Regions from separate parts of the Homo sapiens genome. Here region 2 is linked to region 1. Evidence: fine-mapped expression QTL. A gene starts in region 1. The other region holds a variant in brackets. All regions are shown on one strand. Distances are from middle to middle.

Region 1 (2,871 bases):
ATAGCCAACACCTGACAATCATTCCTTTGTGTAATTACTTAGTTGTGCTCTTCCTTCCCTTTTCTTAGTCACCATTCTCACTGAGAAATGCGTCATTTCATGAGTACTCCAGTTACCCCCAGCCTCTTTCTACTAACATCTACCTTGAAACATCAAGAACTGGTTAAATAATCATTTTTACCCCCTTCTTGCTGAGCAACCTATAGTAGCTTCCTACTACACACATTAAATTCATATTCAGAATGAGAAGCTTCAAGACATTTCACCAACCCTTCCTTCTCCTCTGCCAATTTCTCTTTTTGCTCCACTTGGAACTCTCTGCATATTGCCCAGGTATACTTAGTTTCTCGAAACTCCTTACAGGACATTTTACTTTGGGACTGTCTTCTTTCATTCCTTTTTAAAGACATGCTGTATCGCTTTCAAAAAATTCTCAATTTTTACCAATTCAAAAAAAATTTCCTAATTCATTTCCAGTTGAGTCCCGTATTTAAAACAGTATTATCTAGGTGCTAATATATGTCTTATTATTCTTATTTTTATATGTCTTAACATTCTTTTTAAAAATATTTTCAGCCTCTCTAAAGGATCAAAAAATTAACCTTTAAAATCCCTTGAAGAGCATTTTAAGAGAGAAAATATTTGAGGTTTAGTAACACTTACACATTGTACCACCTACCAGCTCCTATTCTACTAGGGAAATAAAATTTAGATGCAGCTAAAATTTAGTTAGGGCCCAAACTCACATCCTATCTAAAAGGTTTCTGTTTTCCTGTCATTGTTTTCTACCCTTCGCATTTTGCATTCAGTAGGGTTGCATTTTTCTTAATAGTTCTTGGTGATGCAAATGCAAAAGAAATGAAATAGGGCTCTCTCATACTACAATTTCAAGGAAAAGGAGACTACGAGGCCCATTCAGCGAGGTGCAAGAGGCCTAGATGCAGCACACCCTGCAACCGCCGCATGCTCCAATTTCATCTTAGGGTTTTCGTACAGCTCCTCTTTTTTGGATGATGCAAACCGCGCAAAAGCAGCATTCAAACCTCCCCACCCTGGAAACGATACAAGAACATGAATCTTTACTGCCACTTTCTCCCTAACACGCAGCCAAGGGAGAGAGGCCCGGATACCCGCCCCCAAAACCGCGTCCACAACAATCATTTCCTCCCTCCCCGCCTTTTACATACAGTACACATACAAATACACACACGCAGAGAAGCCAGCAGGGGCGGGCCGGGCCCGACCACTCCGCAAACCGCAGGGGGAACTTGCGGCAGGCCGAGCTATTTTCGCCCAGTCCTTTCTTCTTCGCTTGCGTCTTCCTCTCCATCTGCATGCACCTGTTACATGAAAGCGAACTTGGGGACGTAGGGTTTCCAGAAAATCCGCTTCGGAGCCACACAGCTTCGCCGGGTGCTGCAACATCCCCCCTCTCTCGGTAAACAGTTGGTCGCGCCCCAGTGCTAGCGGGCGCCGAGCGGGAGCCGCGCGGGAGCAGCGCAGCTACGGCGGCGGCAGCGGCGGCGCGGTTGCGATTCCGAGCCGTTGAGACGCCTCTGCGGCAGCTGGTGGCGCAGGTGGCTTGCGTGGACGCGGGTAGAGGCGACCGGCCAGCAACCGCAGCGTCGGCGCCCGCGGCCCCGGCAGGTGAGCGGGCGACGGGGACTCGCCCCGCCCCCCCCTCGGTGGCGTCGCTCCTGGCTGTAGCGGGGAAGTGGACGCGGCCCGCCCGGGAGCCGAGGGGGCCGAGGCTGCAGCCGCTGGGCAGCAGGTTGCGGGGGAGGCCTTGCGTGGGCGGAAGGGGGCCGCTCGCTTCTCGGAATCCCTGCCTTTTTCTCTCCCATGCACCCCCTCCCTTTTGGGGCTTAAGCTCGGTGGAAAAAGCCCGGAGAAAGATGGGGCGGGCAGACGGGCGATTTCTGGCCGGGCAGCATCCCTGCTTCAGGTGGTGGCGTCTCTTCGGTGGCGGGGTGGAGGACCTGCTCCAGCGCGGAGGCAGCGCACTGGCGGGGGAGGAGCGGGAGGCGGCCGTCCCCTCGCTCTCCCACCCCCACCCGCCGGTTCCCCTCCCCCTCCCCTTGCGGCCCCTCCCTTCGGGGTTCTTCGCTTTAACCGCCCTCGGTGCTCTCCCTAGCAGGCGCGTCGGGACGCCCCGAGGCATCCTCCCCCGCCCGCGGGCCCGGTAGCTGGGCCCGCGTCCGCCGCCCGCATCCCCGCGCCGCCGCATCTCCTCGCCGCCTCCCGGGCTTCGGACCCCCGGTCTCGCCCCCGAAACATGACTCGCGATTTCAAACCTGGAGACCTCATCTTCGCCAAGATGAAAGGTTATCCCCATTGGCCAGCTCGAGTAAGTGATTTGTAGCCCTCGCGCTTAGCAGTGCTACCCTCCTCTCCAGAGGCCTGCTGCCCACCGTGTCTCTTTATTTTTTCTTCTGTCCTTTCTCTCCCTCGCTTTAGTCTCATTTGTAACCTGACCTTTCATTTTAGTTTTTTGCCCAATAATCTCCCGTGTAATTATGAAAATCCAGACGTTTCTACATACCTGTGTATTTCCCTATGGTTTATTGGCAGACTTGGACAGATTTTCTTCCTAGGAAATATTTAAATGCGTTGCTAGTTAATATTCCATTGTAGGTGAAATAATGAAGAGTGAATTTTTGTTTAAAAATTAGTGAAACATTGACATTTCCATAGTTTTGGATCAAGTACAAAATATCAATGGAATTTGTGCAGATTACACACAAACACTTGGATGTCAGAGAAGTGCGTATGTGATTAAATTGGATTTACAGGGTTTTAAAAAAAATACCTTGTACTTGATGAGGCCTTCTGGATTTGCTTGTTTAATACAGATTCAGGACTGGATATTCT
Region 2 (2,914 bases), 210 kb after region 1:
GTTTTTCTAGTGAAACTTTTCCTCCCCCTGTACCTGGATACCCACTTCCTTCCCTTCAAGTCTGGGTAACACATATGCTTCTGCAGACAAGTATCAGTTCTTCCTGTGCTAGCTGCTTGCCTTCTTATCTCAGTTTCCTGCCCATGGGTGCTGTTACCAGTCATTTAGTGTGAATCTGATACTGTGAGTTCAGTGAAGCTCAGAGTTTCCATCTAGCCATCTGTTGACAGCCGACCAATCTCCAGTCTTGGATGCCCCAGTAGCATCTCAGGCGGAGTCTCCTGAAGTTACTTTGTATTCACTTCCCAAAGATGAGTACCTGGGGACTCCTGTGGGTGCTTTTGAGGCTTCCTGGGGGAGAGATTTTCCTTTTTTGAGCCTCCCATTGGCCACCACCTTAGTCAGCACTCTCCTTTTCTCCCCCTGTGCTTCGTGGATCTGTGCTGCCTCCTGATGCACCAAGTCCGTTTATACCCAGAGCCACCGCGGCCAGTTGCTGTATTGGTGATGTCATCACACCTCTCTAAAGGGACTTCTGAAGTGGGGAGTGCCTGGCAGTTCCTAATGCCATCATGCATCTTCAGCTCTTTATTTAAAGACTAGGTGTGTAGTAAATGCTTTTTGTTGTGATCTGTGGATGTGTCCCCTTGGTACTGCTGATATTATGCTGTCATATACATAGGGCCTACGTATTTTAAAATATTTTGGTGAAATGATACATTGTATGTTTGTTGGATCTGAAGGTAACTAGTGAGTGACAATTTTCAGTCTGACTTAATGTGTTGAGTATTGTGTTAGGTGCTGGACAAGCAAATGCAGCTCCTGCCTCAGGTTATGGTCTAGTGGAGAGTGGGGACATGTGTGTTCTGAGAACCACCTGGTGGAGGAGGGATGCCAGGGTACTTTGTGAGCACAGAGGAGGGCACCTCTCCTGGGAGAGAGGGTAGTCAGGAATGATTTCCTGGAGGAGGCCATTTCTTAGACATTCTGAGTCAAGAAGAATGAGTAGGGGTTAGCCATGGAGAAGTGATGTGGGGAAGGGGGAGCTCTTGAAGTGTCTTCCAGGAGAGGGAATAGCGGGATAAGGTGCAGAGGTGAGGAAGATCCTGTGGTGCTCTGGACAGGTGGAGTGTCAGGAATCAAGGCTGGAAGGGTACTTTGTTAGTTCTCCAGAGAAATGGGACATAATATATAGATAGATGAGAGGGGATTTATTATGGGAGTTGTCTCACATGATTATTGATATGGTTTGGCTGTGTTCCCACCCACATCTCATCTTGAGTCATAGCTCACATAATCCCCACGTGTCATGGGTGGGACCCAGTAGGAGGTAATTGAATCATGGGGGTGGGTTTTCCCATGCTCTTCTTGTGACAGTGAATAAGTCTCATGGGATCTGATGTTTTCATAAAGGGCAGTTTCCCCGCACACACTCTCTTGCCTGCTGCCATGTAAGATGTGCCTTTGCTCCTCCTTCATCTTTCACCATGATTTTGAGGCTTTCCCAGCCGTGTGGAAATGTGAGTCCATTAAACCTCTTTTTCTTTATAAATTATGCAGTCTTGGGTATTTCTTCACAGCAGTATGAAAATGGACTAATACAATTATGGAGCGTGAGAAGCCCTACCATATGCTGTCTGCAAGCTGGAGAGCTGCAGAGGCTGGTAGCGTGGCTCAGTCCAAGCACAGAGGCCTCAAAACCATGGAAGCTGATGGTATAACTCAGT[C/T]TGAGGATGAAGGCTTCAGAACCTGGGGGACTACAGGTGCAAGTTCTGGAGACCGAATGCTGGAGAACCTTGAGTTCTGATGTCCAAGAGAAGGAGAAAAAGGACTTCCCAGCTCCAGAAGAGGGAAAAAGCAAATTTGGCTTTCCTCTGTCTTCTTGTTCTATCTGGGTCCTCTGCTGAGTGGATGGTACCCAAAACTTTGGGTGAGGGTAGGTCTTCCTTACCCTGTTCATGGATTCAAATGCCAGTCTCTTCTGGAAACACTCTCCCAGACATACCCATAAATAAAATCTTTACCTGTTCTCTCTATCTGGGTATCCCTTAATCCAGTCAACTTGACACCTAAAATTAACCATCACAGGTAAGAAGGGCCGTTCAGAGACTTTCATGTCAGATTGTGGAGATCATGGTGTGCATCTGCGGGTTTCAGTGAGGAGTGGTGGGGAGCAAGCAGTATTTTAGGTGGCTCCCTGGCAAGGCGTGGAGGCTGATTGGAGGTAGACAAGCCCAGAGTGACGGAGGCTGGTGTTTTGTTTTGTTTGTTGAATGATTATTGGGACTCACTGACGACCCAAGGGTACCTAATAATTAAGGCAACATGATGGGTAAGATATGGTGTGGATCCCTCTGAAAAAGGCAGTTAGAAATATGGACACAGACAGCTGTAACCTGGAGTGCAGGGTAGAGTCTAGAGAGGGTTCAAGTGTCCTGTGCTCCAAGGAGAAGAGGGCTGTCACAGGGTGGTCCACCTGGACATTCTCTCTCCTGCCTGCTGCCCACCCCACCTGCTGACTTGTTTCCAGACCAAGTCTTTACTGACTAGCTGTGTGACTTAGAGCAAGTCCCTTAATGTTTTTGAGCCTTGTTTTCCTCATAGGCGACACGAAGGAGTTGAAACTGATGATCTGTCTGTAAAAGTTCCTTTGAGTTTTTGACATGTGTCTTCTAGAAGGTGACATTCGACCTGGGCTTCATGAGGTGGAATTTCAGCAGGCAGCAAGGGAGGAGATCACCCCTCATTCCTTCAGGCAGAGGGAACAGCAGGGGAACTGCGCTCCTCAGGCGTGGTGAAGTAGGCTGGAGGCCATGTGGTTGGAGCACAGTATATGCCCCCTTTAAGTGATTAATGCAGGAGAGCTGCTGTGAGTGTGTTCCAGCCAGATTGATCAGAATCTGGCCTTGAATGC

The links. PIP is the estimated chance that this variant, and not a neighbour inherited with it, causes the effect.
Region 2: its variant is fine-mapped to the expression of PSIP1 in cerebellum (GTEx, PIP 0.96).

The regions. Positions count from the first base shown.
Region 1 is chr9:15,509,593-15,512,463 of GRCh38, reverse strand. PSIP1 (PC4 and SRSF1 interacting protein 1) reads left to right here and starts at 1,494. Exons shown (of 16, transcript NM_033222.5): 1 at 1,494-1,647; 2 at 2,135-2,347. The coding sequence starts at 2,276. RefSeq lists enhancers at 475-1,427, 1,428-2,381 and silencers at 1,509-1,588, 1,609-1,818, 1,829-1,888, 2,019-2,068, 2,169-2,368.
Region 2 is chr9:15,297,039-15,299,952 of GRCh38, reverse strand. The region is part of intron 1 of TTC39B (tetratricopeptide repeat domain 39B); the gene reads left to right. Among named protein-coding and RNA genes, the nearest start is that of TTC39B, 8.7 kb to the left of the region's middle. The variant C/T (reference allele first, on the strand shown) is at 1,728.